Linked DNA regions of Homo sapiens. The protein of the gene in region 1 purifies or fractionates together with the protein of each later gene. This does not show direct contact. Each region holds a gene or a part of one and is shown in the gene's direction. Other genes may lie near its edges. The genes, in order: GAL3ST1, PIGU, LRIG1, PSG3, LRIG3 and PSG4.

Region 1 (3,972 bases):
CCTGAGGGCCTTGCCCTCTGCCTCTCACTGTTTGCTGGCTGTGTGGGCAGAGAATGTTTTTGTGGCAGTGGATGTAGGTCCAACCTGTGCAGGGGGAAGGCAAGAGCTTGGGCAGGCTCTGGCCTGGGGAGCAGAAAACCTAGGGCTCCCCCTCTCAGCTGGGACTGGCTGTGGGTGGAAGGAGAGGGCTGTGTGCCATTCCCACTCTGTCATGCACACGGCGATGGGAGGGAGTGAGGTTGCCTCCAGAGGCTGGGACAGAGGGTCAGGACCTCTGGAGCCAGAGCCTGCAGCCCCGGGAGACAACTCAGGCCTGTCTGGGGAACTGTGCATCCAGGGCCACACGGCTAGAGCGCAGGCCCATCAGATACGGAAAAATTCCTGGCAGCCATGCTGATGTGGAATTTTCCCCATTCCAGAATCGCCCAGTAATGGCGGGGGCAGTGGGGCTCTGACGCATCCCAGGCCCCACTGGGTGGCCAGCTGGTTCCTTACTGCCCACAGCTGGCGCTGAGGATTCCTGGCCCCTGGCAGGCATTGGTCCTCATCCATGGTCTTGCTCCTCTGGGGTGAAGAAGGAAAGGCCAGGCCTGGAAAATGAGACAGGGCCTGGATGGGACACCTGCCTCCTGGTGGCCTTGCTCAGCCCTCATTGGCACCCTAGAGAGTGACAGCTGAGACCTCCAGGTGACAGGACCAGTTGGAGCTCAGTCTCTTGCTTGAGCTCCCTCCACTCCCATGAGTGCCAAAAATGTGTCGTCCCCAGTTGGCACTGACTAGAGCAAGAAGCCGTATGATCCATTGGATCCTAAGGGCCCCAGGACCCCCCAACCAAAGTTAAGCAATAGTCCGTCCGCCGCCTTTTTCCCAGAGCCCTGGCTCCCCTCCCCACCACCACCAAGCCTGGGCATCCTCAAGTCTTCTGGGCTGGGGGCTCCGTTGAGCCAGAGGACCGGGGCGGGACAATGGCCCCGTTGGCGCGTCCGAGACAAACGGGCCTTGTTGGGCCGGCGGCGGGGGCGCAGCGTTGCGCCCCAGCGCGCTGAATGCGGCTTCTGTGCGTCTCGGGCGGGCGCAGAGGGGCCGGGATGGGGCGGGGAGGGGGCCGGCCCGGGGCGGGGAGGGGTCTGGGGTCCGGGGCGTCCATTGGCCCCGGCGCCGGAGGCTGGGCCAGGCTGGCGGCGGCACCTGGCCGGGAGCGGGCGCGGCGCGGGAGCGGGCGCGGCGCGGCAGCGGCGGCGGGGGCGGGGGCATGGACCAGGCCTGGTGGAGCGGGGGGCCCGGCCGGGTGCGCCCCGCCGCCCAGTGAGCGCCCGGGCGGCGCGGCCCGGGCCGAGCCAGCCACGCTGAGGCGGAGGAGGACGGGGACAAGGTACGTCCCGGGCTCCAGCACCCACTGCCAGCTTGAGCCCTGCCTCAGTCTACTCCCTGGGGATACCGCCCACATTACGCTAACCCCCAAACTGGGACCACGCGCCGGAGGAGGGGAGTAGGAGTGCAGTACCGCTGTTCTAAGCGCTGGGTACCCCTGCCCACTGCCAGAGGGTGGCCTGGTAGGGGCCAGGGAGGGCACAGGTTGGTGCCCCCCATGCCCTTGGTTTTTTCCCCTGTCCCCCAACCCCCCTTCCAGGGCTTCCCAGTCCCTGAAGGTGGGATGGGTGGGGCAGAAGGCAGGCTGCTGGGGCTGAGCTGGAGCTGGGAGTGCGTTAATGATTAATCTTGGACACAGTGGCCAGAGCCCTAGGGGAGGAGGGGCAGAGATCTCCCCTGTCTCCATCAGCCCTTCCTAGAAAGGGGATCAGAGCAGGAACCGGAGACCATAGTAAGGGATGGATCCCCTCTGCTGGGGGAAGGCCCTGGCCTGTACCCCAGAGGAAGCAAAGCCACCAAGGAGAGGTTTGGGAGAGTGGGACAAACCCTGGCATCCAGGAGGGGTCCTATAGGAAATCCTACAGTTCCTGTTTCCTAGCCCAGTGCCCAGGAAGGGGGTCCAGCTTGATCTGCCCCTTCGGTGCCAGGCCAGCATTTTGGTACCAGCACAGAGCACACTACAGACCGAGCCCTGCCCAGTGGGAACTGCCCCGCCCAGCTGCCCAGAGCCAGAGAGGTGATGGGCATGTCTGGCTGCTGTAACCCACACCAGGGGGAAGGAAAGGGAGAGAAGGCAGCATGCCTGACACCTGATCCCCGGGCTGCCGCGGTGACAGGTGCATGAGAATCCTCCAGAGGGGAGAGAGGTGTAGAGGACTGTCCATTCCAGTTGGGAAAACCCAATCTCTTCCTTTACTGACGGGGTGACCTGAGGCCCAGAGAGGGTGAGGCTCATCCAGGCCCACACAGGGGGCACAGGAGGGCAGTCCTGGACCAGAGCAGTCACTGTGTACGCACTGTTCCTTGTCCTGTGAAGGAGGCATTGCTACCTATCCCCATTATCCAGAGGGGGATACTGAGGCTCAGGGAAATTCAATGACTTGTCCAAGGTCACATGGCTCAGAGGTAGCTGAGCTGACTCCAAATCATAGGAGTCTTGCCCTGGCCCCCATTTCAGGACCCCAGCCCAACCCATGACCTCTCTCTGCTCCTTTGGGGTCCTGCCTTCTTGGATCTGCCTGGGCTGCCCCAAACCCTCAGCTCTGGACACCCCCCCTCGCCTCCCTGGCTCCCAGCTCCGCCTGACACTTCAGCGGGTGAGCAGGCTGCTACCCCGGGAGCCGAGACAACGAAGCCCTGTTCCCAGCTGCCACCTCAGCCTGCTTTATTCCCTGCTTGCTCAGGCAGAGCCCTTCCTGGAGGAAGCTCCTTGCGGACAGAGAATGCCTGGTCCCCATGCATCCCCTTCCCTTAATGGGTCCGATGCCCTCTTGTCGCCCAGCAAGGGAGGAGTGTGTCCCCCACAGCCCCTCCCACTGTGTTCTGAGGGACTGGGTGTGCCATCCAGTGAAAGAGGCAATGATTAACCTGAGAGAATGATGCACAAATGGAATTCTGGGCCCGGCTGCAGGCTCCTGAAGGGCTCCTTGCTTCACTTTGACTGGGTGAGGAATATGGATGAGCCCTTTTAGGGGCTCCACACGACTCCAAACAGGGCAGAGCAGGATGGAACACAGGTGCCCATGGGGGTCATCAGGCTGGGGACTGCTGGAATCTCCAGGTGAGGGGTGATGGTGGGAGGAAGTGGGGGCCCAGAAGATGCCTGCCTTCCCTCCTGCTAGTTCTGGCTCCTTGGATGGGGATGGTATCCTTCTAGAAGTCTGGACAGAGCCCGCTTCCCCTACCAGGTGGGATCTAGGAGGATCACAATACAATCAGAGGAGCTAACGCTGAGTGTGTGAAGGGCTCTGCGTGCCTCACAGCAGGCCTGTGAAAGCATCATAGTACCTGCCATTTTTTAGGAAACCAAGGCTCAGAGAGGGGAAGTCACTTGCCCAAGGTCACCCAGCTTGGGGGGTGGTGGAGCCAGCATTTGTTACCAGGCGAGTTTCCAGGAATGGAGAGGTGGGTGTATGTATCTCCGGCATTGTGCATTGCAAGTGTCAATACCTTTTCACAAACCTTTATATTGTTACATAGTTTTAGGCAAATAAGCGCATAAGAATCCTTAAAAAATATTTCAGGCATGTTGTAAGGTACAGAGACTGATATTATCAACTCCTACATACTCAGCTCTGGGGTTCTCAGCATTTTTGGAGCTAATGACAAAGTGACTGACTTCTTGGTGAAGCTGTGACTTGCAACGCCCCAGTTAGCGCTTCTCTAAGGCTACTCAAATCCCCCCCTCAGGAAGCGGGGTGATTTACCCAGACAAGGCAGTGTAGCAGGAAGAGCTGTGGCCTTGCTCCTCATTTTGGCTTTGCCGTGTAGGCAAAAAAACTGAGCCTCAGTTTCCCCACACATCACATGGGGCTAGCAGAGGAGACTGGGAGTGTCTGTCAAGGTCACAGGCATGGATGCCCTTTGTTTTTGTTTTTGTTT
Region 2 (3,500 bases), on another chromosome or scaffold:
ACTCCAGCCTGGGCGACAGAACAAGACCTTGTCTCAAAAATAAAAGAATCAGGGTCAGGAAGAGCACTTCTGATACCACTACTTAAAAAAGCCTTTATGGCCAGGCGAGGTGGCTCACACCTGTAATCCCAGCACTTTGGGAGGCTAAGGTGGGAGGTGGGTAGATTGCTTGAGCTTGAGTTCGAGACCGGCCTAGGCAACATGGTGAAACCTTGTCTCTACTAAAAATACAAAAATTAGCTGGGTGTGGTGGCAGGAGCCTGTAGTCCCAGCTACTCAGGAGGCTGAGGCAGGAGAATCACTTGAACTCAGGAGGTGGAGGTTGCAGTGAGCTGAGATCATGCCACTGCACTCCAGCCTGGGCAATAGAGCAAGACTTTGTCTCAAAAAAAAAAAAAAAGCCGTTATTACAAAATTAAACAGAATTTGTAAGACACACATAACAATGTATTCTATGGTGAATTATTGTAAGGTGAACATTTTTGTAACTGTCATCCAAGTCAAGAATCAGAACTTTGCCACTCACTTCAGAAGCCCCCCTTCGTCACAATCCCCTCACTCTTTTCATAAGTAACTATTATCCTGACTTTTATATGTAATGACATCTTTGTATTTTTAAAAGTTTTATTACTCAAATGAACATCCCTAGTTCATTTGCCGTTAGGCTTAGTCTTGCCCCTAAGAAAAAAGTTTTTGTTTGTGTTTTCAATCTCTCTTAATTTTTAGGGTCCCAGGTTCCCTTTCTCTTCCATAGTGTTTATCTATTGAAGAATCCAGACAGATCTCCCATAGTTTGAATTTTCCTGATTATATATCATGATACAATTTAACATGTTCCTCTATCATCTCTATTTCCTGCAAATAGGCAGCTGGATCCAGAGACTAGATACCACTGTTTTTTGTTTTTTACTTTTTTTTTTTTTTTTCAGCCAGAGTCTCACTCTGTTGCCCAGGCTGGAGTGCAGTGGTGTGATCTTGGCCTACTGCAACCTCCACCTCCTGGGTTCAAGCAATTCTCTTGCCTCAGCCTCCTGAGTAGCTGGGATTACAGGTGTGTGCCACCACACCCAGCTAATTTTTGTATTTTTGGTAGAGATAGGGTTTCACCATGTTGGTCAGGCTGGTCTTGAATTCCTGACCTCAAGTGATCTACCTGCCTCTGCCTCCCAAAGTGCTGGGATTACAGGCATGAGTCACTGCACCAGCCTGTTTTTTAGCTTTTTACTTGAAATCATTTTAAACTTACAGAATACTTGCAAAAATATTGCAGAGAGATCTGTATACCCTTCACCCAGCTTCCCCCAATGTTAATATCCTACATAGTCATAGTACAGTGATCAAAACTAAGATGATAGCATTGGTACAATACTATTAACTAAACCATAGTTGTTAAGATTTTACCATTTTTGCTGGGCACAGTGGCTATGCCTATAATCTCAGCACTTTGGGAGGCTGAGGCGAGGGGATGCCTTGAGCTCTGGAATTTATGACCAGTCTGGGCAACATAGGGAGACTCCCTCTCTACATAAAATTAAAAAAGAGTTAGCTGGTTTGGTGGCGCACACCTGTGGTCCCAGCTACTTGGGAAGCTGAAGTGGGAGGATTGCTTGAGCCTGGGATGAGGAAGCTGCATTGAGCTATGATCATGCCACTGCACTGTATGTAGCCTGGCACCAGAGCAAGACCCTGTGTAAAAAAAAAAAAAAAAAAAAAAAAAAAAAAAAAGTTTTACCATTTTTTCACTAATTTTTTTTCTGTTCTATGATCTAATATTCCATATTGCATTTTTATTTTTATTTTATTTATTTATTTATTTATTTTTTTGAGTCAGAGTCTCGCTCTGTCACCCAGGCTGGAGTGCAGTGACACGATCTTGGTTCACTGCAAGCTCCGCCTTCCGGTTTCATGCCATTCTCCTGCCTCAGCCTCCCGAGTAGCTGGGACTACAGGTGCCCGCCACCTCGCCTGGCTAATTTCTTATATTTTTAGTAGAGATGGGATTTCACCATGTTAGCCAGGATGGTTTCGATCTCCTGACCTCATGATTTGCCCACTTCAGCCTCCAAAGTGCTGGGATTACGGGTGTGAGCCAGCACGCCCGCCCCCCCCTTTTTTTTTTTTTTTTTTTTTTGAGACGGAGTCTCGCTCTGTCACCCAGGCTGGAGTGCAGTGGCGAGATCTCGGCTCACTGCAACCTCCACCTCCCAGATTCAGGAGATTCTCCTGCCTTAGCCTCCCGAGTAGCTGGGATTATAGGTCCCTGCCACCATGCCAGCTAATCTTTGTATTTTTAGTGGATACGGGGTTTCACCATGCTGGCCAGGCTGGTATCGAATTCCTGACCTCAGGTGATCCACCTGCCTCGACCTCCCAAAATGCTGTGATTACAGGCATGAGCCACCGCGCCTGGCCACATATTGCGTTTAGTTGTTATATCTCCTTAGTCGTTTATCTGTGATAGTTCCTTAGCATTTCCTCATCTTTTATGACCTTGACACTTTGAAGAGCTCTGGTCAGGTATTTTGTAGAATGTCCCTCAATTTGGTTTTGTCTAATGTTTTCTTGTGGTTTGACGGAGGTAATGGATTTTGGGGAAGAATACCCCTGAGATGATATGGTCCTCTCAGTGCATTGGATCAGGGGTGCATATTGAAATGCCCTAATACTGGTGATGTCAGCCATAATCCCTTGGTTAATGTAGTGTCTGCCAGATTTCTCCACCATAAAGTGACTGTTTCCCTTTGTAATTAATCAGCATTTTAGGGGCTATTCTTTGGAGCTCTGCAAATATCCTGTTTTTAAATTTTTGCCTACTAATTTTTGCATTCATAGGTTAATCTTGCCTGTAACAGTCATTACTCAGGTGTTTCAATGGTGACTTTTCTGTTTCTCTCATTCATTTTTATTTAATAATTAAAATTCTTCTGTAAGGAAGAGTTGTCATTTCTTTGCATTTATTTAACTATTTATGTCAGTATAGATTTGGATATTTTATACTCTGGACTCTGTATACTATATTCATTCTGTTGTTTGGATTATTCTAGTTTTGGCCATTGGGACCGCTTTCATCTTGACCCCTTTGTCCTTTTGCCATACCTCTATCTCACTTTTTTTTTTTAAAAGCACTTTATTACATTCTAGAACTATAAGATGATCCAGGTTTATCTTGCTTAGTTCAGCCCTGGAATTGACCACTTCTTCAAGGGCCCTGGCTCCTTTTATTAGAGAATGTTATTTAGAAACAAAGTTCTGAATGCTAGGTGTGTTCATTGCAGCTGGAGTGATGCTGCTTCTTAGGCCCTCAGCTAGAAGTATAGGGACACTACTGCTTTTGAACAAGCTTTTGTCCTTATTGATACGGGAAACTGAAAAATAATATTTGTCTTATACAGGATGATATGCTTTTATTATCACCCATAGGAAAAGTATACCAAGGTAACTAAGAATTATTGGCCAGGCATAGTGGCTCATGCCTGTAATCTTAGCACTTTGGGAGGCCA
Region 3 (3,500 bases), on another chromosome or scaffold:
CTTTTCATTTCCTGCCTTTAGTTCTTTATATCTTCTAAATGGGCATTTGCTACCCAGCTGTCTCCTGGTCTCCATTTGGGTTATTGACTGGGGGAGAGAATGGGCTAGGGACAAAGCTTTCCTCACCTTTACTGTGTTAAATATGCAGGGGCTCTTGCCGCTGGTGGTCACACCCAACTCACACTCGTCATTAAGGAGTGGCGGTGAAGGGGTTGAAAGTTAATTCTGTGGTCCATCCCTGGCACCTCCAGTCTACAGCTACATGTGTGATTTTGGGCAAACCTCTTCATGTCTAAAAAGACAGAAAAATGCTCTATCTTATAGAAGCTGTGAGGACAAAGTTAGATGATGCCTATATTTAGCTAGGTTCCTCAACTTGGGTCCATCTACTTTATGATGATTCTGGAGCACAATTTGAAGGTTAAAGGCCTCAGTAGCTCCAATTTATTATCCTGTCTCACAGCCAGTCTCTCCAAGCCAGATTCCTTCCTTCTTCCCTTCCCCTTCCCTCCCCCACTCCCTTCCCTTCCCTCTTTCTCTTTTTCTCTTTCTTTTCTTTTTCTTTCTTTCTTTCTCTGTTTTCTTTTTCTTTTTTCTTTCTCTCCTCCCTTCTTTCTTTTTTTCCTTCTTTCCCTCCCTCCCTCCCTTCGTCTTTCTTCCTTTCTTTCTCTTTCTCTCTCTCTCTCTTTTTTTTCTTTCTTTCCTTTCTTTCTTTCTTTTCTTTCTTTCGACAGGGTTTCACTCTGTTGCCCACGCTGGAGTGCAGTGGTGCAATCAAGACTCACTGCAGCCTCAGCCTCGTGGGCTCAAGCAGTCCTCCCATCTCAGTTGCCTGAGTAGCTGAGACTAGAAGGCTCATGCTACCACACCCAGCTTCCAAGCCAGATTGCTGGTGACAGAGGCTTTCCTGGGAAATGTTTACCTTTCTGCTGTGAAGGAGTCTTTTGGAATGGGAAGATGGCAGCCTTCTCCTGTGAGTTTTGGTGATATGTATGAAGCGGCCTTCTCCCATGGATTTTTGGTGATATGTATGAAGTGCCACAAGTGAACCTCATGTACCCTTGGAAATCTTAGCCAAACAGGCAGGAAGCTATGAACAGTTGCAACAGATTATATAATTAGCAAAAATTATTGAGGTATTTTATAAATCTATTCCAGTTGTACAAATAGTTATGTCTGTTTACCACTATCCTTTTGGAAGGGAGGCAGGTATGGGAAGGTGGCAGGGAAGTGAGAGGCCCTTAAACTAATCATTTTATCCTATTATTTCCCAGGGTTTCATTGAAACTGAGCCCTACCAAGGTGCAAGTAGCACCTCTCAGTCAATAGCTTGGAAAAATGCAGGTGTGCTCTTCCAAACAGGGTTAAGTTACAGACTTTAGGGCTAACTGAATCCTCACTGTACCCGCTTCTCTTTGGAAAACCTTGAGGGAGGAGGGAGGAGGGAGGACAGGAGACAATTGTGGAGTTGTATGCAAAGAACATTTTTCATTTGTTTTGGTCTGTTTGGAATTGCATAGTAACTTTGTAGGGGACACAGGCGGGGAACACAGGGTCATTTGAGGAATCTGGCAAGGATGCCACCTGAAAAGCTGTTTACTGTTTGCTATCACTCCTTGTGCACCTGTACCTGAGTTCCTTCCCCAGTGAATGGCCATGATTCACAGCCTTGCCCACGTGAACGGCCACGATTGTTTTCGTCTTTATTACTATTTAATCTAGCATAACCGGTAAGGCCCATTGTGCGAACAACCAATCTGTTCATTTCTGCAAGTCCTAATACATTTTGGTTTCCTTATGAACCAGGATGCAGGTTCTAATTACTGCTTGTTCAGTTTGTTTTGGCAAAAGGTGACATTTAGAGGGTTTAAAGAAAGCATGGCCTCTTTTTAAGTGTTTTGCGTTGATTAGTTTTTGAACTTTTGTGGTCAAAAGTTCTAATCTCTTATCTTTTATGATCTGCATTCTCAAGATCTCACATTATTGGGAAGAAAATGAAGGAAATGAGTGAAGGTCTCTCTTACAAGCAGAATTAGCTGGACTTTGAGAAACACGATGAACGTAATGCAGGGTTTTTCTTCTTTTTTTTAGCTGATTAGAAAAAAAACAACTCACAACTTTATTTTCTAAGACTCCTTTATGCAGCATTTAACAGCTTCCCCCTCCCTGTTTTGCTCCTTCCACCAATTTATAATTTGCCATTGAAATATTTTACTGCTTATCTTGGTCAAAGCATACATTGCACTGAACTTCTTTTCTTCCGGATTACCTACTTGATGATAGCCTGTTAAATGCAATGAGAAGGATTGAACACTTCTGAACTGGAGGATAGATAATCTTGCTGTTGTTTCAAATCTTGTAGTTCCAGTGCTCTTTTGTTTGAAAGCATTTGTCTCTCAAGCATTAGCACTTTGGGCTGGATAACAAGAAATTAACAAGCTGGGCTCTGCTTAGAGAAAACTTACAACTGATTAGAAAGTAAGCTGTTGCAGGTACAGCTTCTTTTTCTTGAGAGATGATCTGAAATACATAGCTTTTAGAAAAAATTTTGAATTAAGGGAACAGTTGATATGCAGGCAGGTAGTTTAAATAAACTAACTCACTTCTGTTGCTCTGGAGTGTTTTTTCTTACCTTTTGAATATGGAGAAAGGTAAATATCTACACAAGTGGACAGAATAATGTAATGAACTCTAGGTATCTGTCACCCATCTTCAACAATCATCAGCTGTCTTATTTGATCTATTTCCCAATATGCTGCTGCCCTTCCATGTTATTTATTTATTTTTTCTTTGGAAATAAATCAAAGGCATATCATTTTATCTGCAAATGTATAGGTTTTTTTTAAGTTAACAGCTTTATTGAGATATAATTTATATACCATACTATTTACTGTAGGGTGGTTTTAAGAAATTGGAAGTTTTGAAAAAATTGACATTCATTTTAACTGTGTTTTTCCAAAGGGCGTTTTGGTAAGCTATATATTTACAGAATGTTTATTGGGCACATTCTGTGTGCACCCTAGTTTATATGTTCTCAAAATACAGATTTTTTTTCTTTTGTAGGAGGTGTTTAGCAAGCTCTTTTGTGCTAGTCCTCTGCCAGAATGTGCAATTCTGATTAACCTTCCACTTTCTCCACATAGCTCTTACTTGGGAGGTTTCTACCAAGCTATTAATTGTTGATTAAAATCCATTAGTGAACAAACATAATTAGAAATGGAATAGATCATTTAAAAAGTGATGTCTCAGATACTGTTGTTTAGTAGAGGGATAATTAGCCGTTGGTTGTAGTTAAGTCATGAGTCTGAATTGAGTTAACTATTGTTTACTTTGTAAGGCCTGACCCTCCAGCTGTGGCTACTTGAGGCTGCTTTAAATAGAGTTAGAGGCAGCCTGTAAGAAAAATCTTCAAAAAGCAAAGAACTAGGTTCCTGGAACCCTCTGTGCTTGATTTAAACTTCACACAGATTTGAAAATGTGTTCTCCAAGTAGCTGCTGCA
Region 4 (3,500 bases), on another chromosome or scaffold:
GTTTCCCAAAGTGTCCATGTCACTGTCACAAGAGGATCAAGGAGAGGACCTTGTTTTCTTTCCCCACTCACACCCTACACCACCATAGGCCCAGCGAGACAGACACACTCAGGAGCTCTTACATAACAAATGAAGAAATGGAATGAAGAAATGAATGATCCAAAACCTCTTTAGAGACTGAATTTGCATGCAGAATCCTAGGAGGTTCTAGCCACACCTGTCCCTTGTCCTTCAGAGGCTGACACCCACGTTTCATCCCCCCACTACCTCTTGACCCTAAAGCAACCCCACCTCATGTAACTCTGAAGCTCTTTGGCCACCGGAGGGTTCTCAGGGCTCCTTGGTCCTGGACTGTGGAACTGGGGGCACCTGGTCCCTGGGGTCTCTGAAGTCAGTGTAGCCCTCACTGCTCACTGCCATGGTGTCTCTGCCTCTCTCTGCTTCTCTGTGTCCCTCATCTTCCTCCCACTTCATTCTGACTGGCAAGCCCTGTCCTGCACAGCTTCTTCCCCCACCCCTAGGTCTTCCCCAGACACTCCCTCTAACTAGGCTGACTGTTCAGTTCCCTTCCCGCTAACACTGTGGCCTGGCCCACCTCCCAGGAAATAGGAAAGGTGCAGAAATCACCTGGAGTTGCCACTCCTGCCAGGCTTCCTCTAGAGCCAATGTCCCCAGGTCACTAAGAGAATGAGTTTCCACTGTATTCCCATCCAGGGCTCTTTCCCTTTGTGAGGCTGACCTGTGGACAAGACCATGGGACAGGGATAGGCAGTTTCTCCATCCACTCTTATAATTGCCAGACAAGTTCTTCTGGCCTCCTGCACACACACACACACACACACACACACACACACACACACACACACACAAATGTATTGAAATGGTGGTTTGTAGTAAAGAAAGATTTTAATGACTCCAAGTCTGCCAAACAGGAGGATGGAGGTTTATTATTACTCAAATCAGCCTCCCCAGTGGATCAGGGCTTAGAGATTTTCAAGGATAGTTTCAGGGGCACAGGACTAAAAAATGAGTACTGCTGATTGGTGATGGAATCATGCGGGCGGAGGGAAATGATCTGTTTGTGCTTGAATCCACCTCTAGGTAGGGACCACATGACGGGCTGAGCCATTAGTCATAGGTATGGATGAGGTCAGCCGGTTGCCAGAATGCAAAAGAATGAGAAACATCTCAAAAGACCAATCTCACGTTCTACAATAGTGATGTTATCTATAGGAGCAATTAGTTACAAATTTTGTAAACTCTGGCCCAACGACATTTGAGCAGTCAAGGATTATAAAAACTCTGCCAACATTTTAGCAGAATTCAGTTCCCTCCTATAATCTTAATCTCATGGTCTTTCACTAGTTTTACAAAGGCAGTCCCTGGGCAAAGTAAGGGTGTTACTTTTACAGAGGAACAATTATCATTCTTGCTTCAAAGTTAAACAATAAACTAAATTCCTCCCAAGGTTAGCCTGGCCTATGCCCAGGAATGAGTGAGGACAGCCAGCCTGAGACTAGATACCAGATGGACTCAGCCATGCTAGTTTGCTGTCACTGTTGTAATCTTAGCACTGACTCACCAGAGTGTCAGAGGCTGGACAGGCCTGCAGTCCCCAAACCCCATGGGCTCATTTCACCCATTTCACTTGTGACTCCATCCTCAACCTGCTATAAAGCTCACATTCTCCGGTCACTTCCTAGAGACTTCTGGCTTCCTGTCAGGCATATAACAAGCTTGAAATTTGTTCCTCGGTTCTAACACTAAGTAAAAAGCTGAACAAACTCAAAAGTCAACAACTCATTAAAATCCCTCAGAGATGGCTGGGCACAGTGGCTCATGCCTATAATCCCAGGACTTTGGGAGGCCGAGGCAGGCACAAGGTCAGGAGATGGAGACCATCCTGGCTAACATGGTGAAACCCCGTCTCTACTAAAAATACAAAAAATTAGCTGGACGTGGTGGCAGGCGCTTGTAGTCCCAGCTATTTGGGAGGCCAAGCCAGGAGAATGGCATGAACCCAGGAGGTGGAGCTTGCAGTGAGATGAGATCATGCCACTGCACTCCAGCCTAGGTGACAGAGCGAGACTCTGTCTCAGAAAAAAAAAAATGTTTTTAGAGACATGAAGAATGCTTTTGATACTTACTGGTAGACTGAACATAGCTGAGGAAAGAATCCCTAGCTTGAGGATATGTCAATAGAAACTTCCAAAACTGAAACAGGAAAGTTCAACAAGAGTGGGGAAAAAAAGTGGAACAACATTTCAACTTCATATTTAATATTTTGATTTGACAATAGCAATTTTTAAATTTTGTAGCTGTGGGACAACTACAAAGGCTATAAGATACACGTAATGGGAATACTGGTGGTTTTGGGGACCAGGTGGAGGTGGCCAGGTGGGTGCTATCTGATGGCTTTACTGCCTGTGCCACATACAACTGTTTCCTCATGATGATGCCGTTTTCATAAGTTGGAGTTCTGCGTGTGGGGAGACACACAAACCATTGGCATCTCACTTAGACTCTTTCTAATTCACACAAACTTAAACACTAGTGGTGTTTCCTGAGCTTAAGAGAAAATGAAGAAAGCATTTCACATACCTGTTTTGGGGTCCTCCCCATTTTTCCTAACTCTGCACAGAAATTAGAAGCAGGTTCTTTCTATATTTACTAACATAACACACATCACTTCTTTTAGTTTGGCATCCTTCCTCCCTTTATGCAATTGACACACTAACCAGTTCTGTCCTTTTAACGGGACTCTCTCTACTTAAGGAGTTGCTAATTTCAAATCACCTTTGGCATCTTTCTTTGAGCATAATGTGATCCTGCTGGAATTCACGGCACACCTAAACCTTATTTTGGTCTCAAGAGAAATACTACTACCAGCAATTGATCTTAGATGTTTGGATCATCAGTAAAAATTTCCACTTATGAAAACATTTCAATGTTTCCTCCAAATTTTTTGCTGTTGTTGTTACTAGAGTCAGAACATAAGGTCTAAACTCCTGACAAATTTTTATGGGAAAATTACAGTATTACAAATTGAGCATCGGAAATCCAGAAATCCACAATCTGAAATGCTCCAAAACTCAACCCTTCTGACCACTGATGTGATGCTAAAAAGAAGTGCTCACTGGCGCATTGTGGATTTTAAATTTTTCAGATTTGGGATGCTAAACCAGTACATGTACTGTAAATATTCCAAAATAAAAAAAATTAGAAATCCAAAACACTTGGTTTTAAGCTTTCTGAATAAGGAGCACTTTATCTGTATGAACTATAGGCATGAAGCTGTACAGGAGATCTCTAGAACCTCCTCATCCTGCATAACTGAAACCGCACACCCACAGAACAACGCCCTATTCCCCTGATCCCAGCTCCTGGAAACTACTATTCTACACTCTGATTCACTCTGGAATCCACTGATATCAGGTACATAGAGTAGTCAAATTCAGAATCAGAGAGTAGAATGTCTAATGAGAGAAAGTATCTGCAAG
Region 5 (3,500 bases), on another chromosome or scaffold:
GCCTGGCAGAAGGATGGGGGCACAGACTTCCCAGCTGCACGGGAGAGACGCATGCATGTGATGCCCGAGGATGACGTGTTCTTTATCGTGGATGTGAAGATAGAGGACATTGGGGTATACAGCTGCACAGCTCAGAACAGTGCAGGAAGTATTTCAGCAAATGCAACTCTGACTGTCCTAGGTGGGTGAATTTGTTAAGATTCTGTAGTATAAATCAGTCTTGAAGATACTAGCTCATCCAAGGTCCCTAAGTATCAGAAGTTGTGAGAGTAAGAGATGAAGATGTATGGGGCATTGCCTTTTCCTAGAAAGTATTAATGCAAATGGCCTCTTGAACACTTTGAAGTCAGGGATTGCATGACATCCTCAAGTCTGGCCACTGAGGTGAATCCCTGCCCCCTCCATCCTGAAGAGAGGGGCCGAGGAAAAGTTGGGATGCTTTCCCTTTTATGGGGGATCACCCTCCTCTAATTTCCCCACTGTGCTGTCTATATCAGTAGTCTTAACACCATAAAGAACATTAAAAAAAAATGTGGGAACAAATTGGGAAGGCCTTACTCTCTTTTCTCAGCCTACCATACCTCTCCGGAAGTCAGAGTTTTTTTTTCATCTTTTACCTAAACAAATGCTTTTTAAAAATGTAAACACAATTATTATTCACGTATCTTTGAAAGAGCTAATTAACGTAACCTATTAAGATACTAAATAATAAAAGTAAATTATTGTCAGAGTTTTAATATAGGCCCAGGCATCCGGCCCTAAAAAGTTTCACTTAAAAAACTTAAGCATTCTGATTTTTTTTATTTATCAACATACCCTTGTGCTTGAAATTATTTTTGTACTTTCTATTTTTAAAAAGCTTTTGTTTCCCACTCTCCCCCCCTACTACCAGCTTCCCGACTTTTGCAAAAGTGAGGGAAGCTGAGATTTTAAAAATAGTAGATATTATCCTTAACTGGTGTTATGAGTAAATGACAGCAGAATAGTGAAATACTGAATGTTGTATATGTTTAGGCTCTTAGAAAAGTGTGTCCAGTAAGTTGTGGGAGAATAAAATTTTAGGTTACAATTTGAATAAGTTTAAATGCTACATTTTATGATATGGAAACTAAATTTTATTTGGGAAATTAAAAGCATAACTTGTTATTTCAGAAACACCATCATTTTTGCGGCCACTGTTGGACCGAACTGTAACCAAGGGAGAAACAGCCGTCCTACAGTGCATTGCTGGAGGAAGCCCTCCCCCTAAACTGAACTGGACCAAAGATGATAGCCCATTGGTGGTAACCGAGAGGCACTTTTTTGCAGCAGGCAATCAGCTTCTGATTATTGTGGACTCAGATGTCAGTGATGCTGGGAAATACACATGTGAGATGTCTAACACCCTTGGCACTGAGAGAGGAAACGTGCGCCTCAGTGTGATCCCCACTCCAACCTGCGACTCCCCTCAGATGACAGCCCCATCGTTAGACGATGACGGATGGGCCACTGTGGGTGTCGTGATCATAGCCGTGGTTTGCTGTGTGGTGGGCACGTCACTCGTGTGGGTGGTCATCATATACCACACAAGGCGGAGGAATGAAGATTGCAGCATTACCAACACAGGTGTGTAAACAGAAGCTTGGCACAGGTCACCGGAGTCATGTGTATTTGTGGTTCTGCAAATACTTCTAGAACGTGTGTCTTGCAGTCTGAGTTCATCTCAGAAGGGTGACTCATTTGTTTCAAGCTGCAGAAATATGATTCGCTAAAAAACTCCAGCCCCAAATAAAGCTGATGTTTAAAGATTAATACTTTTTGTTAAAATGACATCAGGGTATCCTGTGGCTGTGAGATAAAATCCAAGTCACTGACTAAAATATTTCTAACTCCTTCATAAGATAGTGATGGAGAACCAGGAACAGCCCTTTAATGATAAGGTTTACTCTCTGCAGTAGTTGTATGTCTTGTTGTCTGTGCGTATGTGCATGTACTTAGGTTGGATTTTATTAGTGGAAGAGGAGCTGTGACTTGATTAGTATGTGCAAAGTCAGATATTGATTAGTAATATTAAGAAGGGAATATGGCAATAATCAAGCATAATTCGAAAGCTTAGATACTGTCCCATGAAAATTCTTAGGCCTTCAGCCTTTTAAAAAATCTGTTTAAACATTTGTTGTTTTGAAATTTGGGAGGTGCATCCAATGGGTGATAAAACAGAAAGTCAGCTTATACGTCCCAGAGCAGCAAAGCCCTAATTTGCCGTTCCAGAATACTGTACAATCGAGATGGTTTTGCCAGAGTAGATCTCCCCTAATTTGATGTATACAGAAGCCAAAATAGTCTATGCCATTCACCCGGGATGCCTGTGGGACAATTAACGATCATCCTTGGTTAATAAAATGCTGCTGTTTTATTACAGATGAGACCAACTTGCCAGCAGATATTCCTAGTTATTTGTCATCTCAGGGAACGTTAGCTGACAGGCAGGATGGGTACGTGTCTTCAGAAAGTGGAAGCCACCACCAGTTTGTCACATCTTCAGGTGCTGGATTTTTCTTACCACAACATGACAGTAGTGGTAAGTGTTTAAAATGAATGTGGGCTGTAATTGTTTTGAAGTCATATGGTGGAAGGCTCAGATATGATATTCATTTTCACAAGACATTGATAACACTGACATTTAGGACCTGGCCCAAGATCACTAGCAAGGTTGAAATTGTATAGTTCTATACCGTTCTCTTAAATACTAGGAAAGAAATAAATCTTTGTTTCTAACAATAAAAAAAGACTAGTAGGTTTAGAAAAATGTAATTATTCCATGTGTAAAGGATATTTGTGTATCCTTTACATTATAAATGTTCTTTGGCCCTTAAATGATATTAACTGGTTACATGAATGGGCTTAAAAGTCTAATGGTTTACATTATTTTCTTTAAGAAGTCTATTTTTTATTTATTTATTTTTATTTATTTGAGACGAAGTCTCGCTCTGTCACCCAGGCTGGAGTGCAGTGGCGTGGTCTCAGCTCACTGCAGCCTCCACCTGCTGGGTTCAAACGATTCTCCTGCCTCAGCCTCCCAAGTAACTGGGACTACAGCCACATGCCACCACGCCTGGCTAATGCTTTCTTTTGTTTTTGTATTTTTAGTAGAGATGGGGTTTTGCCATGTTGGCCAGGCTTGTCTTGAACTCCTGACCTCAGGTGATCTGCCTGCCTCAGCCTCCCAAAGTGCTGGGATTACAGGCGTGAGCCACCGCACCCAGCCTCTTTGAGAAGTCTAATTCTGACCCTTGCTTTCAATGCTGCATAGTTTTGAGAATAATAATGGAGACAGCATAATACAAGAGCACAGGTTTGGTACAAGACCTACTACTTACTGCATGTACTGTGGGGCACATACAATACTTTCTGGTGAGGTACTTGTGCAAATGAAATGAAGATGGAAAACTACATGGCGCTAGGCACATATTAAGGGCTCAGCAAGTGGAAGCCATCGATGTTATTCTAAAATATATGAC
Region 6 (4,060 bases), on another chromosome or scaffold:
CACCCTGTGTCCTGCCTGCCCACTGCAGCCCAGGGGGCGCAGAGAGCGTGTGATGGTCACACACAGGCACCATCCGGGATGTGGCCACCTGCCACCAGCTGTCCCTTGGGAAGACAGACCTCTCCTGTGTGCTTGTGGGGAGAAGGGGGGTGTTATTTTTCTTTGCTCCCAGAACACAACTCACCCCCACCCGCCCTCTCAGGTGTGAGCAAGGTCCCTCCAGACAGGCTCTCTGGCCACTGCCTGTTCCTCCTCTACAGAGAGCAGCTTGGCCAGGTCAAAACCCTCAGGACAGACCCCTGGGTATGTCAGCACAGGGAGGGCTGAGCCCATCATGGCCACGGAGTAAGTCGGGATGAATCTCTCCAGCTCTGAACCCCTGCTCTGTCCCAGGCTCCCCCTCCTGCGTCTCAACAAGCCATGTCCCGCGGGGTTCCTGGGTAACTCCCCACTTCCTCCTGCACCACCACGGGGAAGGTGTGGTGACCACAGGACAATCAGCTGGGCAGAGAAGAGAGGACATCAAAGGTGGTCAGGGAGAACATGAGAAACCCTGAGCTCCAGCTCAGCCGCCAGACCCCAGGGAGACACAGAGTGACCGAGAACTGTCCCTTTGACTCTGGGATTCACAGCCCCCACTGAGCAATCAGCACAGGCCTCTCCTCCCAAGAGGCCTGAGAGATTCACCCTGCACACCTCCAGGATGGATAGTTTCCTCTGGGAAACCCAGGTACTGAATGTTCATCCTTGGAAGCTGCAGCCAAGCTAGACACGATTAGAGAAAGGAAGGGTCCCTCTTACCAGACAACACAGAGCTCACCCACAGCACAATGGGACGTCACTGTGACGGGAACCTTGTGCAGCTCCTGCACTGAAGGGGAGAGCCAGATGAGGAAGGAAGAGGGTAAAGGGCGTGAATGTGCACCCTACCCCAGAGCCATGGGGACAGCAGGAGGCTGAGGCCCAGGACTCTGCTTGCCTAACCTGCAGGGTATGTGTGTGACCATGTGGGTCGTGTGTGTCTCTTCTGTGTGTGTGTGTGTGTGTGTGCATCTGCACAAAGTGTGTGTTGAGGTTTGGTGAAAGAATCACTGCTGAAAAATGCAGAGGCCTCCACAATTCCCAGGGACCTGAAACACAGACAAAAGGAAAAACAGGAGGGACAAGGAGGCAGAACTGAGAGAGGAGGGGACAGAGAGGTGTCCTGGGCCTGACCCCGCCCACGAGCTTGAGAAATGCTCCTGCCCCGGGAGGAGGCTCAGCACAGAAGGAGGAAGGACAGCACAGCTGACAGCCGTACTCAGGAAGCTTCTGGATCCTAGGCTTATCTCCACAGAGGAGAACACACAAGCAGCAGAGACCATGGGGCCCCTCTCAGCCCCTCCCTGCACACAGCGCATCACCTGGAAGGGGGTCCTGCTCACAGGTGAGGAGAGAACTTCCTGGGAGAGGACAGGAGGAGGAAGCAGAGTGACTGGATGGGGTCTCCTGGAGAGGATGGGGTTCTGAAAAATGAAAGAAGCCAGCACTTTGGGAGGCTGAGTTGGGTGGATCAGGAGATCAGGAGTTCAAGATCAGTCTGGCCAACACTGTGAAGCCCTGTCTCTACTAAAAACACAAAAAATTAACCAGGTATAGTGGTGTGCTCCTGTAATCATAGCTACTCAGGAGGCTGTGGCAGGAGAATCACGTGCACCCACGAGGCAGAAGTTGCAGCTAGCCAAGATAGCACTACTGCACACCAGCCTGGGTGACAGGACGAGACTCCGTCTCAAAAAAAAAAAAAAGAAAAAAGGAAAAAAAGAAAAAAGAAGAAAAGGGAAAGAAGGCTCTGTTGGAGCCTGGATAGGGGAAAATACACCAGAGGGTCAAAATAGGAAAGTCACATTGAAGCGGAATTGGTAAGTGGTAGGAAAATCTTAAGTGTTCTGTTTTCCTGATTAATCATCAGGGGCCACCATATTTTGAAAAATGATAACAATAACTATATCAGATGACACTTCAAATGAAAATATAAGCAGGACATGAAACACTGTCCTCAGCAAGAAACCTCAACAATTGGGGGGAAAAAGAAACATCCAGAGGGTGGAGACCCTGAGAACTCTCACATCTACAGGAGTCTGCCGCCTGTTCCAGGTACTGGGGTGCAACCAAGATCACAAAAGTCCCTGTCCTCACGGAGCTCACACAGTCATCGTGGGGGGAAGACAGACATGCTAAGTGATCTAGAATGTGAGATCAGGTGTTGACAAGAACCCTGGAGGGAGGAGAGCAGGGAAAGGTCAGAAAGGGAAGACCCAGGGTCTCTGAAGGAGGTATCAGGAAAGAAGTCTAAGGATGCCCTGATGTGAGCAGGACCTGAGGGCAGTGTGGAGGGGGCCGTGCGGACCCCTGGGGAAGAGGAATCCAAAAAGAAAAATGCCAAGGTCAGAAGTGTTGAAGGAATGGGGGTCATGCTGCTGATCTTGACCTAGTGGGACAGTAGGACACACACACATACACTCACGCCCCTTTAGTGTGTGTATGTGTTTGTATGTGTGTGTTTGTGTGTCTTCAAGGCTGAGGATTGAAGAGACCTTCTCAGGACCCATCTTTTCACCCCAATACATAGGTCTCAATATTAACTGATGCTCTCTGTACCTCCTAGCATCACTTTTAAACTTCTGGAATCCGCCCACAACTGCCCAAGTCACGATTGAAGCCCAGCCACCCAAAGTTTCTGAGGGGAAGGATGTTCTTCTACTTGTCCACAATTTGCCCCAGAATCTTGCTGGCTACATTTGGTACAAAGGGCAAATGACATACCTCTACCATTACATTACATCATATGTAGTAGACGGTCAAAGAATTATATATGGGCCTGCATACAGTGGAAGAGAAAGAGTATATTCCAATGCATCCCTGCTGATCCAGAATGTCACGCAGGAGGATGCAGGATCCTACACCTTACACATCATAAAGCGACGCGATGGGACTGGAGGAGTAACTGGACATTTCACCTTCACCTTACACCGTGAGTGATTCCACATGATCCCTGGGTGTTGGGGGACAGGGGTCACTTCTACTTCACACACACAGGATTCTCAGGCCTGGACTCTGCCTGTGTCCCTCTCTGCATTAAGTCCCATGCTGGGGTTTGGGCATTTAGTGCAGGACACACAGAGGAGACAAATTTCAACAGATCAGAATTCCTTTCCCGCATTCAGACCCTGCAGACACTCGCTGCAGAGGAAGGACAGTCTGATGGGGGGACTCAGCAGGAGGAGATCAGTCTCAGACAAGCACCTCATGCCCTCTTCATAAATTTGACGCTGACAAAGACCCTGGAGAACTGAGTAGGGCTGGCCTGAGGGGCCCCCTGAGATACTCTCAGAGCAGCTCAGCCCTAGAAGCCTCAACCCCAGACCTCTGTCCCTAAATCCTTGCTCCAGATAAAGCTGAGGAGCCTGTGCCAGTGCTGGGTTGTTCCTTCTTGGGCAGGCCTTACTGGGACCAAGAATTTACCAGCTGTCAGAGGACTGTGTCTCCTGGAGCTGTTCACCAGCCAGGGCTCAGCCCTCAGAGCCTCATCTGGGCAAGGACAGAGCTTTCTTCACCTGACACTCAGAGTGGAGAGGATAGAAAGACAAGCTTTGTAGGACATCGGCTTAGGAGAGTCCATAGAAAGTCTAATGTCCCCAGAAGCAGAAACAGAAGGAGAAGATGTACCTGGTAGCAGATTGTCCACAGGGATCTGATGTAAAGGTGTTTTCTCATGGAAGCAAATTAATAATAAATGCTGTTTGTGTGAAACCTCCACTGTGCCAAGCATTAGGTCAGGTGACTGTGAATCATTTAACATTTATTCACAGATAGCATGAAAAGCCACAGTCCATTTGCCATTTAGCTTATTTGATTGAGAGAAAACTGAGGCACAGGAAGGCACAGTCACTGAACCAGAGTCACACCAACACAAAGGGGAGATCGGGGTCACATGAGGTCTGTCTGCAGCCACAGGCCCTTCCTCTCCTCCACCAGAAGTGAGGGCTTACTGGGTTCCAAGCACCCCATAGTCATTTAT

What was found.
Region 2: the proteins of GAL3ST1 (region 1) and PIGU purify together in Homo sapiens (affinity purification with mass spectrometry, with the first as the bait; one large-scale study listed by BioGRID). This does not show direct contact.
Region 3: the proteins of GAL3ST1 (region 1) and LRIG1 purify together in Homo sapiens (affinity purification with mass spectrometry; 3 studies listed by BioGRID and IntAct, with this or other methods). This does not show direct contact.
Region 4: the proteins of GAL3ST1 (region 1) and PSG3 purify together in Homo sapiens (affinity purification with mass spectrometry; one large-scale study listed by BioGRID and IntAct). This does not show direct contact.
Region 5: the proteins of GAL3ST1 (region 1) and LRIG3 purify together in Homo sapiens (affinity purification with mass spectrometry; 3 studies listed by BioGRID and IntAct, with this or other methods). This does not show direct contact.
Region 6: the proteins of GAL3ST1 (region 1) and PSG4 purify together in Homo sapiens (affinity purification with mass spectrometry; 2 studies listed by BioGRID and IntAct, with this or other methods). This does not show direct contact.

Annotation. Positions count from the first base shown.
Region 1 is NC_000022.11:30,571,866-30,575,837, reverse strand, and holds the start of GAL3ST1 (galactosylceramide sulfotransferase), read left to right. Parts: upstream 1-1,172; 5' UTR 1,173-1,372; intron 1,373-2,968; exon of another isoform or gene 2,969-2,969; coding exon of another isoform or gene 2,970-3,035; exon of another isoform or gene 3,036-3,151; intron 3,152-3,972. UniProt on the Homo sapiens protein: Catalyzes the transfer of a sulfate group to position 3 of non-reducing beta-galactosyl residues in glycerolipids and sphingolipids, therefore participates in the biosynthesis of sulfoglycolipids.
Region 2 is NC_000020.11:34,667,093-34,670,592, reverse strand, and holds part of PIGU (GPI-anchor transamidase component PIGU), read left to right. Parts: intron 1-3,500. UniProt on the Homo sapiens protein: Component of the glycosylphosphatidylinositol-anchor (GPI-anchor) transamidase (GPI-T) complex that catalyzes the formation of the linkage between a proprotein and a GPI-anchor and participates in GPI anchored protein biosynthesis.
Region 3 is NC_000003.12:66,491,023-66,494,522, reverse strand, and holds part of LRIG1 (leucine-rich repeats and immunoglobulin-like domains protein 1 isoform 1 precursor), read left to right. Parts: intron 1-3,500. UniProt on the Homo sapiens protein: Acts as a feedback negative regulator of signaling by receptor tyrosine kinases, through a mechanism that involves enhancement of receptor ubiquitination and accelerated intracellular degradation.
Region 4 is NC_000019.10:42,733,982-42,737,481, reverse strand, and holds part of PSG3 (pregnancy-specific beta-1-glycoprotein 3 precursor), read left to right. Parts: intron 1-3,500.
Region 5 is NC_000012.12:58,875,505-58,879,004, reverse strand, and holds part of LRIG3 (leucine-rich repeats and immunoglobulin-like domains protein 3 isoform 2 precursor), read left to right. Parts: coding exon 1-181; intron 182-1,152; coding exon 1,153-1,605; intron 1,606-2,401; coding exon 2,402-2,560; intron 2,561-3,500. UniProt on the Homo sapiens protein: May play a role in craniofacial and inner ear morphogenesis during embryonic development. May act within the otic vesicle epithelium to control formation of the lateral semicircular canal in the inner ear, possibly by restricting the expression of NTN1.
Region 6 is NC_000019.10:43,202,839-43,206,898, reverse strand, and holds the start of PSG4 (pregnancy-specific beta-1-glycoprotein 4 isoform 1 precursor), read left to right. Parts: upstream 1-1,260; 5' UTR 1,261-1,362; coding exon 1,363-1,426; intron 1,427-1,951; exon of another isoform or gene 1,952-2,024; coding exon of another isoform or gene 2,025-2,136; intron 2,137-2,647; coding exon 2,648-3,013; intron 3,014-4,060.